Linked DNA regions of Homo sapiens. The protein of the gene in region 2 purifies or fractionates together with the protein of the main gene of each other region. This does not show direct contact. Each region holds a gene or a part of one and is shown on either strand. Other genes may lie near its edges. The genes, in order: CCT6B, SMOX, FLNC and HERC1.

Region 1 (3,171 bases), on a different chromosome or scaffold from region 2:
TTAATTCTAGAGTTTCAAACAAGAAAGATATTGCTATAATATCTATACTGAACAGTTGTATTATAAGCCAAAAATAATTATTTCCCACCATTGGTGTCAATAATTCTCTTTCCAGATGAGACCTGTTCTATCTCACCATCTAGACAGAGAGCTACCAGAGCTAGCACAGTGGCATAAATTGTTGATCATACATACAAAAACAGCCAGATAAAATATAATAAATGATATACAAAATAAATTGAGTCAGATATTATAAACAATGCAACCCAAAGCTACACGCCATATTTATAAGAGGAAAGAGTGGCAGCAAAAAGTCACTGAAAGAATTTTGAGAGAAAATGAAACATTCTGTCCTACTATATTTATACCCTCTGATAAATTGGAAATTTACTTGGGTGTACTAAAACCTCTATTTTGTTAATTAAAACTTGTCAAAAGGTCTAAGTATCATAAAGATCCTATGCTATAAAAACTGCAATAGCATATAACAAAGAGTGGGGAGTTAGGACTCTTGGGGAAATATTTAAATATTATTCCTTTACTGTAAAAGTATTTATTGTGTTCTTTATACCTTGATGAAATATTTTTGAGACTATTAAGACCCAAAAGACATAAACTGCATTTATTGTGTAGAAATTCAGAATGGCTCAGGCTACACAATAGTAGTCAGATGTAAAGTGTACTAAATTTCATCTTCTAGAAGGGTTGATTTTGAATTCAATCATCATTTGAGAGAAGACATCCCAGCTCGCATAATTTCATCAACCAGGAGAATGTTGGTGGCAATCACTGTGCTAAGGAAAAAGATGAGAGGGTGAGTAAAGCCTACTAACCCACTCTTAGCTTTTTTCCCCAGCAATCTTTACCTATGTAGGGTACTTTGTTCTTTAATGATGTTAGTATGATGTTTTATGAGACAAGGCTATTATAAATACAAATACAAATGTCACCTTTTTTTTTTTTCCCAAGATGGAGTTTCACTCTTGTTGCCCAGGCTGAAGTGCAATGGCAAGACCTCAGCTTACTGCAACTTCTGCCTCCCAGGTTCAAGCAATTCTCCCGCCTCAGCCTCCCGAGTAGCTGGGATAACAGGCACCCACCAACACGCCTGGCTAATTTTTGTATTTTTAGTAGAGACAGGGTTTCACCATGTTTGCCAGGCTGGTCTCGAACTCCTGACCTTAGGTGATTCACCCGCCTCGGCCTCCCAAAGTGCTGGGATTACGGGTGTGAGCCACCGCACTGGCCCAAATGTCACCCTTTGTATTATAATTTAAACTCCTTTGCTGATAAAGTGCATTCCTGATTTATATTTCAGCAAAATTGAGCTTATTTTTACAATATCATTTGATTTTCTCCATCATGCATGTGCTATTATTTCAGTAAATTTCCCCTTTTCTTTCCCCCTCAAATAGTAAGGTTAATTTTTCTTAGAACTTAACACTGCTAGATCTAAAATATAAAAGGGACTATGGACTATAAAATGACAGAAGCTAGTTCTAATAACTGAATACCACACCTTTCATACACTTGACAATTTTTCCACTGTACAGGGACAAAAATAATAGAAAAAATTTCATCTTAATATTATCAATTATAACTCTACAGGTCTTTCACTTTATGTTCATATGAACTTACCAAGAGTGAAGAAGTTGTTTTTTTACACAATAATTATCCCAAACTCCTGCATCTGCTGCTACCATTGGCTCACCTGAAAAGTAAAAACAATTTTCATACCAAAATCTTAGTATTTGCTATTAATATTAATTGATATCTTCTAAAAATATTTAATACATTACCAAAACTACTTTTGTCAAGGTCATCAATGACCTCCATATTGTTAAATCCAATGGTTGATTCTCAGACCTCATCTACCAGTATTTAACACAGTTGATCACATTCTGCCGCCTACTCTATGTTATCTTCCAGGATACCACACTCTTCTGGTTTTCTTTCTTTTGCATTAGTGGCTCCTTTTCTGATTACTTTGCTGCTTCTTCCTCTTCCTCCCTGACCTCTTAACGTTGGAGTACCCAAAAGTTCAGTCCCAGCCTCTTTTCTCTCTACCCTTAATCCCTAGGTGATCTCATCCAGACTTTTAGATTTAAACCATACACATCTGATGACTCTCAAGGTTTTTTGGGTGTTTTTGTTTTTTGTTTTCTTTCTTTTTTTTTTTTTTTTTGGTGTTTTTTGTTTTTGTTTTTGAGACAGAGATCTTGCTCTGTCACTCAGGCTGGAGTGCAGTGGTGCCATCTCGGCTCCCTGCAACCTCCACCTCCTGGGTTCAAGCAATTCTCCTGACTCAGCCTCCCAAGTAGCTGGGATTATAGGGGCCTGCCACCATCCCCGGCTAATTTTTGCATTTTTAGTAGAGATGGGGTTTCACCATGTTGGCCAGGCTGGTCTTGAACCCTTGACCTTTAGTGATTCACCTACCTTGGCCTCCCAGAGTGCTGGGATTACAGGCGTGAGCCACTGCGCCTGGCCTGACTCTCAGGTTTTAATCTCCAACCCAGACCTCTTCCTTGAACTCCAGACCCATATATCCAACTTTTTTAATTAAAAGATTACAGATGCTTCAACTTTGACTCTGCCAAAACTGAATGCTGATGTCCTCTCACCCACAACCTGCTCCAGCCAGTATTCTCCACCACAGTTGATTGCAACTCCAACCTTCTACTTGTTCAGTTGACTTCTCTACAAAGTGGAGAGTGGCCAGAGTGATTCTCTTAAACATAATTAGGCCACATGCCTGGCCAACATGGTGAAACCCTGTCTCTACTAAAAATACAAAAATTAGCCGGGCGTGGCAGCAGACACCTATATTCCCAGCTACTCCGGAGGCTGAGGCAGGAGAATTGCTTGAACCTGGGAGGCAGAGGTTGCAGTGAGCCAAGATCGTGCCACTGCACTCCACAGCATGGGTGATAGAACGAGACTGTCTCATAAATTAATTAATTAGGCCATGTCACACCTCTGCTCAAAATTGCTCCCTGCTCCTCTAAAGTAAAAGCCAAAGTCCTGAGACTGGTCCAAATGCCCCTGCATGATCTGACCTTCTGTCACCTCTCTCACCTCCTTCCTCAGAAACATCAGACACTGGCTTTTCCACTGGCTGTTCTCTTTCCCTAGAACACTTAACCCCAGTTGCCTACATGGCTAATTTCC
Region 2 (3,571 bases):
GATAGAAGAGGAAGGAGGGAGGCTGGGGCTCGAGCTGTGTACCCACTCAGCGCCTCCTGTGACCCCCGGCAAAACGCTCCACCTTACTTTTCCTATCTATCTGAAAACACATGACACATAATCATGTTTCCCCGCCTAATATCGGGGGTTCTCGTGAGGTCCTCCTGGAATAGTGGGTGAAAAATGTTGAGCTGAAAGACTCAGAGAGTAAAAGGCAAATCCAGCTCTTAGCAACAGAGCACAATGGGCGGTGATCTCTGAGTGTTTTACCATCAGCCTTTAGAAAGGGGGAAGAGACACAGCGCCCATAATTCTGAGTGTGTCAAGTTCTAAACTGTCAGCAACTGAAGAGCCTTTGGCTGAATGTGGCACCCTGCAGTGGCTCTCCCGTGGGGCACAGCATCCGAGCTTCACGGTCTGGGGAGGAGAGAGCTGCCATGGGTCCACCAGAGGAGGGCAGGTGAGGAAGAAGCAGGGTGGGGGAAGCGGGTCGTGGGGCACGTGGCGCACCTGTGAACTGACGCAGCATCTCCGTGCAGATCTCGGCCACTGCCTCGTCATCACACTTCTCCATGACGAGGGCCTCCTCCCCGCAGATCCAGCCGCTCAGCACATGGCCGTAGCGCTCAGGCGGGTAGAGGACATCAAAGCCGCAGATCTTGCGGTACCAGAGCTCAGGTGGGTAGGTGAGGGTGTGGCTCTCTGCTTCGTCCTCCCACACAAACTGTAGGCTGTTGCACTCAGGGCCCCAGAAGGGCTCCTCGAATTCCAGAAAGATCTTGTCGGTGGTGCCAATGCCCAGGCGGTGGATGGCAGCCACCTTCTCTGTGGGCAGGCCTGGCCGGAAGAAACTGGTGTACTGCCTCTTTAGCACACCTAGCGACACGGTCACAATCACATGGTCCGCCGGGATCAGCTCACAGTCCTCGCACTCCACCACCACCGACCACTGCTCATCCTCATCCCACCTGCCCCCCCGGGGCTCCTCTCCACCCTGGCCACCCTCCCCAGTGTCGTGATTGTGGTCGCCCTCACCCCGGGGCTCAATCTCAGGGCCTCTGGGGCGGGCTGAGGCCTGGTCCCAGTGAATGCAGCGGACAGGTTTCCCTAGCTGGATGACGTGGGCAGGGATGCCCTCCGCCAGCAGCTCCACAACCCGCATGAAGCCCGAGGGGATGATGTGGTGAGCGCCGGGGATCTCGGTCCACTCCCCGAAGGCGCTCAGGGACACCTCGTCCATGCTGTGTGAGCTGCTCTCACAGCTCTCCACCTGCGGGAAGACCCAAGGAGAAGCCAGGTGACCGCCGGGGTTGGGCAGGGGTAGGAGCAGCGTAGCCCTCCTCAGACCCAGACGCCCCCAGAATCCGTCTTCCTCAAGATACCTTCAGGTACTGCTGGATCATGGCGAGCTTCAGGCGCTTGGTAGCCTCTGGGTCGTCAGGGTCATTCCTGATGCGGTTACGCACCTCCTCTCGGGTGAACACCCCCACGCTATTTTGACTTTCAGCATTGACTGGTTTATCGTGCCGGAAGAACTCCTGGGTCAAGTTATAGACCTGCCAGAGAGACCCCATGAGACTGAAAACACCTCATCACACCTCCATCTCAAACAGAAGGCCCCCAACCCAAACCCACCAGTTCCCAGGTGTCCCCTGGATGCACTGAGCCCCTGGTCTCTGTCCCTTAGGGATCCGATGTTGCACTCAATGCTGCACCAAAAGCCAAGGCCCCGGGCAGCCACCTCCTCGCCTCCGGCCTGTCGGGGAGGTGGGATAAGCCCCGGAGGTTTTCTTGCTGGGCCCTCACTTAGGACAATGTGAAACATTTGGTGCCCATACAGTCTGTGGGAAAGAAGCCACCCCTCATGGACTCTGCATGGGCCTCCATGGGCTCCACCTCCCACTGGAGGATGGGCATTTGCACACATTTACCTGTTCCAAGAACGATACGTGCACTTTCCCTGCCACCCCTGCCCAAGTGTGTCTGCTTTGCCCGCTCCCAAGAGGGCAGTCTGGAGCTGTGGCCTGGCCAGCAGAAGGGCCCCTGACGACTGGAGACACCTCCCTGGGCCTGTGCAGCTCCGTACAAAGCACCCCCTTTGCTTCAGGCCTCAGCCACGAGTAAGGAAGCTGAGACGCAGTGGGGAAGACAGGAACACAAAAGCCAGGGTCTCAGGAGGCCCCAGTGTGCCAAGGAAGGGAGATGCATTTCACGGGCACGTTTCAGCAAGAACTCCAGCCCACACCTCATCAACAGATAACGACGATCAGTCACTTGAAAAGGGGTCTGACTGCCCGCCCGACCCTCGTGCCTGTCTCATATACAGTCCCCACTAAGCACTGGGCAGAGCTCCCTGAAGGAAGTAAGCCAGTCCAGGGATCCCCAGAAGCAACATTTACTCAACATTTACCGGGCTCTGTGCAGGACACAGCTTGTAATGTGGGCGAAACAGTCCCTGCCCCTCCCCTCACTCCAGCTGGGGAGACAGTCCACGATTGGGCTGCCGTGATAGGAAAGAACCCGGGGCTGTGAGGTCAACGCAGACAACCCTGGGCAGCTGAGAGACAGCCAGGGTGGAGAGGAAAGGGAGAAGAAAAGCATTTCAGGCAGAGGGAACAGCAACCTCAAAGATGGAGAAGCAGTCAGGAATCCTGAAGGGGTTTGGTTTTGCTGGAGGGGGCAGCAAGGAGAGAGGATCTGAGAGCCGACTTTGGAAGGGCAGGCAGGGTCCAGGGCATAAAGGACTGAGAGTTATTCCAAGGACTCTGGACTTGATCCAAGGCCCTGGCATCGCTGGAGGGCCGTGAGCAAGAAGGCGGCAGGATCACATGCCCACAGCTGTCATTCCCAGGACACCAGCTAATGGAGGCTCCTTGGTCGAGCCCCTGTGGCTGAGCTGATGAATGGTTTGTTTCCCTTCCTAAAGTGAGTGTGGTCAGCACACATGTCTGGGAATGGTGTCTGCCCTGTCCCCCAGCCCTGGGCTAGGCCCTGGGGCCACAGGGTGAAGGAAGATGGCAAAGCACAGTGATGTCCACCACCCGCCACCACCACCATCTCACTCAAGGGGAAGGCCTCCACCTGAGACACAGACATGAATTAAACTTATCTCTGGAGACTAAATTATAAAGAAGAAAGTGAGGGAAATTGTTTCATCTTGCCTCCCTGCAATCAGGAGATGCTGAGTGGTGAGCCTTAGCTGGAGTCCTCAGCAAATTCTTCACCCAGGACCACTGCCAAGGGTCAGGCTTTCAATTTGCCTCCTCCCTGGGTTTTTCCCTTGGGCGATAAGCAACCTGGTAGCCAGTCCTTAGCTTATGTTAACTAGAGGCCAAAATGCCCAGCTGAGGAGTAATGAATTTAGTCCATCGACATGACTCTTTGCATCAGCCACCAACGAGGGCAGCCTTCACCGAACATGGGTGTATCACATGGCACAGTCTCCTCTCCTGGGTTATTCGACACCTTCCCAATGTGACCCAAGGAAAATCGGACAGGTCTGTGACAGCTAATAATACTCACCCCAATTCTCATTAAGCACTTATCATTGGTTCTCATTCAATCCTCATAA
Region 3 (2,754 bases), on a different chromosome or scaffold from region 2:
AGCCGGCATTCAGGGTGTTCACGATGAACTCTGATGACACACCTGGGGGCCAGAGGTAGCAAGGCTGAGGGCAGGAAGGGCTTGTGGCCCAAGAGGGACTGGGCCCCAGCTCCCTGGACAGCCTCTGTGGGGACTCCTGGCTTAGGAAGCAGGGCCCCTACCTCTGGAGCAAAGCAGCACCAGACTAGTGGCCAAGCACCCCCAGAAGTCACCCTGTTCCCCAGCTCCAGGCACTCACCGGTAGTGCCTCCCTCGAGCCCAGGACCGTAGGCTGACACCAAGCCTGGGTCCCCAGCCTGGCTCTGCTCCCCAACGCGGATCTTGAAGGGACTTCCAGGGATGTGGGCACCGTTGAACTTGACATCGATGGAGTGGACGCCATTCTCGTGGGGGATGAAGCGGATGGTGTGCTTGTCTGTGGATAAAGGGTTGGTGGCTTAGCCTCCATCCTTCCCCTCCCCAGAAGGCCCCAGCCCGGAAGGGAGTTGGCAGGGGCAGGGCCAGCTCACCACTGTCCAGCTCAGAGACGTAGCACTCCTCCACAGCCCCCGAGGGTGTGTGCACCCGGGCATCAATCACGCCCCGGGCACCGTTCAGCTGCACGGCAAAGGACGCTGGCTGGTTCACCTTGAGCCCCGTCTCCTGCAAAGGCCACGGAGGATGCTCAGACTCCTGGGAGGCCGGGGCTGGAGCAGTCTTCTCTGAAGCCCCACACGGTGCTCACTGTAAGCCCAGCCCAAAGGCTGCTGCCACCCCATGCCCAGCCTGGCCCCTGCCTGCCAGCCCAGCCTGGGAGCAGGAGGAGCCAGGGTCCGGTATGCAACCCTATGTGTGCACCTGCTATCCTAGCTGTGCTTGGTGTGTGGGAGATGACAGACGATGTGCCCTGTCCTGGCTGAGGAAGGAAGGGCCCCACTCTGTGTGAAGCAGGCTGAGGGCGGAGGGCAAGTGCCTGATGGGCTGTGTGGGCTGGGGGTGCCAGAGAGCTCTGAGGTAGGAAGCTGAGTTTCACTGGCCTGGCCTGGGAGAGCTTCCTGGAGAAGGTGGACCAACAGGGAGGACCAGAAGAAGCACAGAAGGGCTCTGGGGGAGGGATTGGAGCCTGCATCGGGGAGCCCAGTTCAGGAGTGGGAGGAGGAGATGCACAAGGACTCTGGATGGGCCAATGTGACCACCCTGAGGGGCAGCCAGGAGGCGCGTGGGAGAAGGAGGTGGGGTGAAGCCCATTCTGTGCGCCTTATGCAGAAGCTCCTTTACAATGTGTCCCCTGGACACCTGGCCCCCTGGTTTGCATGTTTCAGTGTGACTTGCTGAAAGCCTTCCTTGCACATGTCCGCTGTGACAGAATGAAAGGAACACACCACATCTCTAGAAGTCAGCAGCAAGAGAAAGCAAGCCAGGCCCCCAGCGGCCTGAAGAGGATGCAGCCCAGGCTCTGCAGCCCATAGGCATTCCCTTTAGAGGAGCCTCTCACACCCTCTGTGCAAACTGGTTTACTCTTAGTTTGTATAGATTTTATGCTCTCATTCTTATAAATGTTGTCATCTAGCATTCTTACAACAGAAGGTGGAACAAACTGTAACAAGAAATGGCAGGTGGCAGTAGGACAGGCAGACACACCCTGAGAAAGGCAGAACGAGGCGTGGCATGCCTGAGTGCACGGGCAAGCCCCCAGGGTGGGAGCCCACCGTCCCCAAGGGCCCTGCCTCGTGCCTTATGAGAAGGGACTCCTAACTGGCCCTTCCAAGGTCACTGCTAAATCCCTGGCCCCATGGACCTGCTGTCCTCAACTCCTGCCCATCTCTCAGATAGCAGAAACCCTCCACCCCCACCCTGGGCACAAACCTGGAGGCTGGTGACAGTGAGACGGCGAGCGTCATCCGAGAGGGAGGCCACAGGCACCACAAAGGGGCTGTCTGGGATGTGCTCATCATTGAACTTGATGGAGACCTCATAGTCACCTGGGGAGAGAGACCAGTCAGCACAGGTTCCGGGATGGAGGTTGGCAGGGCGGGAGCCTCCCCACCCTGGCCTTATCCCAGGAAAGGCTCTGTGGTCAGCGCTCAGATCTGGAGGCAGACACATGTTTCTGAGGGTGTGGGGTAGAGGGAGACGGGGCAGAGGAAGAGCAGGGGGCTCCGGGGAGGGGAGTTCTGTGGCCCCAAGCATCTCCTGCCTGGCCAGTGGGCAGAAACCCAGTCTGGAAGGTCAGGCAGGCCCAGCCCCACTGCCAGTGTGGACGCCCACCTGGTTCCTGGACGACATAGGAGACGCCGCAGGAGCCATCTTTGCGATCCTCAAATGCAATCTCCGCTTTGCTAGGACCCTCCACAGCAATGGACAGGCCCCCAGCGCCAGCCTCCCGGGTCCAGATGCTGAACTCGGCTGGGGACAGGCAAGGTAGTGGACTTCAGCATCATCGCCCCTCACACTGGCTGCCCTGACTTCATCCCCACTCCTGGCCACCTGCCCCTTACCTGGCACGCCGGCCACACCTCGCTCCAGCCCTGTGCCTCCGGCCCGCACCTTGTGGGCACCACCTTCACCCAGCGGCCCCACAGTGAACTGAAAGGGGCTGCCGGGCACGTGCTGGCCACGGTACTTGACAGCGACCGTATGGGGCCCCATTTCCTGGGGCACAAAGCGCACGCTGTAGGCGCTGTCCTCGCCCTCGACGATCTCTGCGGCTTCCACCTTGCCCGATGGGCTGGTCACCTGTGCAGTCATGTCCTGAGAGCTGGCCTCACCTGCAGG
Region 4 (3,571 bases), on a different chromosome or scaffold from region 2:
CTGCTGCAGGTACCATTACATTTCTTCCAGCTTCTGCCAGCTGTCCATGCCTACCAGCACCCCATAAGTAGACATCACATTTACCTCCCAGGTGCCAGTCCTAGAAAACCACAATCATCTCAAAATTAGAGTCATCCATTCACTCAAACAGCCATGTACTACGTACCAAGTGTGTGCCAGCCTGTATGGGAGACACCAGGGCACAAACACACAAGCATTTAGAATCAAAACATTGACTGAGAACCATCATACAGTTATCTTCATCTTTACTGACCTCAGGTCTGGAAGTTGCCCAAGACATAATTTGTTCATCCATGCCGTTAATCCATTTACTGTTATCCTGAAAAACAGGGGGTACATAATGATCAATTCTGCTTAGGCAAGATGCACCTGCTCTTAACCACAAAGTCCTCTTCTAATCATTAAGTCTTATTTCCAAAAAAGAATATGGTAATATTATGATAAATTAAGAGCAGTTTTATAATTATGTCAAACTTGATTTTATGCACTGTCAGTATTTCCCTTTATTATAAACACTTTCACTATCACTATCACTATGGCATTGGTGATTCAAAGCTAGCCATGTGTTTTCTGAACACCCACAGGTACAAGGTCATGTGGAGGACCCCACACCCCTGTAAACTCTTTGTGTAGCTGTGGGCAAATTACTTCATCTTTCTGGGCTTCAGCTTCCTCATCTACAAAATTACAGAGTTGGGCCAAATGGGCTTAGAAGGACATTTTCTGATTAAAATATTGTATACTTTTGTGCCACGTGACATTTCAGTCAACAACAAACTGCATGTGTGAAGATGGTCTCTTAAGATTATAAAACCTTATTTTTATTATATCTTCTATGTTTACATACACAAATACTTATCACTGTTACAAATGCCTAGAGCATTGAATACAGTCATATTCTGTACAGGTTTGTAGCCTAGGAGTAATCAGACTATACCGTATAGTCTTGTTGCAAGTAGGCTGTATCATCTAGGTTTGTGTAAGTACTATACACTCTATGATATTCCCAGCGTCAAGATTGCCTAACAATGCATTTCTCAGAACATATCCCCATCATTAAGTGATGCATAGCTACAGTTACATAATTTTACTTAATTTATATTTGTCTGTTTCATATTGTATCAATGTTTATCCAAATGTTTGTATACATAAATCTTAAGTATACAAAGAGGTTGTTAGATCATGTGCTGTCCTGTAGTCTAAACAGGTATTTTATCTATGTCACAGTTTCTAGAGTAGACACTCTCAAATACAAACAGAATGAAATGACAATTAGAATGCTCTTCTATATTTTATTTGATGCTAATTAAAGACATGATTGAAATGCCAAATAAATTAGAATCTATATGTGGCATATAACCCACAAGATGACCAGGAAAAGATGCTAAGATATATACAACTAAAGCACTAACAAAGTACCTATGGACAAAAGAAAATGAGAAAATATGGGACTATGTCATTGAGAGGTGGCAGGTTTACAAGAGTTCAACAGTGCTTACATTATCAATTCCTGTCACTATGGAGGCCTGCCATCAGATTGAAAGTGACTATCTGAAAGAAAAATATTTTCCATTTCTCTTAAGGGTATCCTTCTAGCCATGCATACCAGCAAAGACTTATTAGGGGTCTGCTACATGCCCAATACCCATGATAAAATCTCAGCTGCAAATAATAGCAGCTCACAGTACATTTACCATTAGAAATACAAGTTCATCCTCTGGAACAGGTTCTAGATCTGGAACGGTAAAAGATTCTGGAAACTGGGCTCCATTGGTCAGGGCTTCGGCAGCTTTTATAGTGGTTGAGAAACATTCTAACCAGGCCCATTCATTTGGATTCCAGGATGCAGGGTCAGGGAGACAGTTCTGGTGGTGTGGTGGCACTGGAGGGTTACACAACAGCTGATCCAGATGAAGTCCCACAGCAAGGGAAGCCAAGCATTGCATATAGGGGCTATGAACAAGTTGGTCACCACAAACCACATGAGGCTAAAACAAAATACAAGGATATAATATGTCAAAGAGTTTGTGCCAAATATTCTAAATTAACCTACCGTAGTCTGAAAGTCTGGAATCATATTTTTCAAGTTTACTGTTTAAGCTTTTTGCTAGGAAATAATTTTAGATTTAGAGTGAGTTGTACAGATAGTACCGAGGATTTCTGTATACCCTTCGCCCAACTTTATCCAATGTTAACATCTTATACAACCCTGGCACATTTATCAAAACTAACAAACTAACATTGGTACAATACTAACTAAACCACAGAACTTTATTTGGTTTTCCTCAGTTTTCCCATTAATACTCCTTTTCTGCTCCAGGATCCAATCTAAGCTATCACACTGCATATAGTACATTTTCATCATGGTTTTTCTTGATTGGAAAAAAAAGCAGGTAACTATTTAACCACAGAGATCTGCTCTTCTCACTTTCCTCCTTTATAAGAGAATCCTGGTAGCCATCAAAGGAAAAGCAAAAAGCTGGAAGACAGGCTACTTTAGGATCACTGTCTGGACAAGTTCAAACGCTGCAATTCCTCATTCCAGTATTTAATGACCCTACTCAATTCAACATAGCTCTTCCACTAAATTTTCCACAAAGATTTATCTAATAAGTGGAGACGATATTCAGTCTGATACCCGCATCCATCCCTATCCCTCAACTTTGGAATGGCCAAGCCATATAAAAATAGATATATGTGTGGGTCAGAAAAGGGAAGATATTCTGCTGCATAGGTATTTTAAGAAGCTTTGGAGTGAATAAATAATCTGAAAAGCAGTAATACAAACTTGGTGTTTGTTTCTTTATTTTACTCTGGTGAAAATAAAGCAAGAATAGGCTTAGGGTTGCTGAACAACTCTTTTAGGCATGACTTACCTTCATTTGATTCTGCCCAAATAGCCCCACTTATTATCCTCAGACCTCATGCTTTTAAGGGATAAGTTCAAGGCTATAATCACATTCCAAAGCACCAGGTATCTGTGTATCTCTAGGAGTGAGTGTAATGAGTTACCTTTTCATAGGCATACTGCTCCTGAAGCATCATGGGGAGCCGCTCCAAAAATGCTCTCATGCAGGGAGCCATGTTCAATCCCAGAACACCCTGCTGTTTCAATGCTGTCCTACAGGTTGCCAAAACATGATTGGCAGCTGCCCATTCTGCTGTACAATTCACGACCAAAACATCCTGGTTGAAAATAAATCATGCCACATAATAAATTTGTTTAAATAAAAAATAATGCTATCACCATTTAATCTGCGAAATTCCTTCTAGTAACTGGGACATCTTTGCTTTTTGGATATTTTATATCCAAAAAGGCTATGCTTTTAATGCCTATGGAACTTCAAAATATCCTAAATTTTGTCTAAGTAAAAAATAATGAGAAATAATAAAATTTGTGAACTACCTCTGATTAGCTGGTACTTTTTAAGGAAAAAATGTCAATAATTAACTATTTCTTCAGAACCTGCAGAATAAGGCATCTACTATATTTCAAAAGTCATGTCTGACATGACTACAAGGATAGCTGCAAAAGAGGTAGCACTGCTTT

The links.
Region 1: the proteins of SMOX (region 2) and CCT6B purify together in Homo sapiens (affinity purification with mass spectrometry; 2 studies listed by BioGRID and IntAct, with this or other methods). This does not show direct contact.
Region 3: the proteins of SMOX (region 2) and FLNC purify together in Homo sapiens (affinity purification with mass spectrometry; one large-scale study listed by BioGRID and IntAct). This does not show direct contact.
Region 4: the proteins of SMOX (region 2) and HERC1 purify together in Homo sapiens (affinity purification with mass spectrometry; 2 studies listed by BioGRID and IntAct, with this or other methods). This does not show direct contact.

Annotation. Positions count from the first base shown.
Region 1 is NC_000017.11:34,927,324-34,930,494, forward strand, and holds the end of CCT6B (T-complex protein 1 subunit zeta-2), read right to left. Parts: intron 1,712-3,171; coding exon 1,639-1,711; intron 795-1,638; coding exon 725-794; 3' UTR 538-724; downstream 1-537. UniProt on the Homo sapiens protein: Component of the chaperonin-containing T-complex (TRiC), a molecular chaperone complex that assists the folding of proteins upon ATP hydrolysis.
Region 2 is NC_000020.11:4,179,788-4,183,358, reverse strand, and holds part of SMOX (spermine oxidase), read right to left. Parts: intron 1,557-3,571; coding exon 1,383-1,556; intron 1,271-1,382; coding exon 511-1,270; intron 1-510. UniProt on the Homo sapiens protein: Flavoenzyme which catalyzes the oxidation of spermine to spermidine. Can also use N(1)-acetylspermine and spermidine as substrates, with different affinity depending on the isoform (isozyme) and on the experimental conditions.
Region 3 is NC_000007.14:128,854,406-128,857,159, reverse strand, and holds part of FLNC (filamin-C), read right to left. Parts: intron 2,748-2,754; coding exon 2,478-2,747; intron 2,386-2,477; coding exon 2,248-2,385; intron 1,962-2,247; coding exon 1,846-1,961; intron 643-1,845; coding exon 510-642; intron 416-509; coding exon 239-415; intron 43-238; coding exon 1-42.
Region 4 is NC_000015.10:63,638,437-63,642,007, forward strand, and holds part of HERC1 (probable E3 ubiquitin-protein ligase HERC1), read right to left. Parts: intron 3,208-3,571; coding exon 3,034-3,207; intron 2,010-3,033; coding exon 1,716-2,009; intron 341-1,715; coding exon 275-340; intron 101-274; coding exon 1-100. UniProt on the Homo sapiens protein: Involved in membrane trafficking via some guanine nucleotide exchange factor (GEF) activity and its ability to bind clathrin. Acts as a GEF for Arf and Rab, by exchanging bound GDP for free GTP.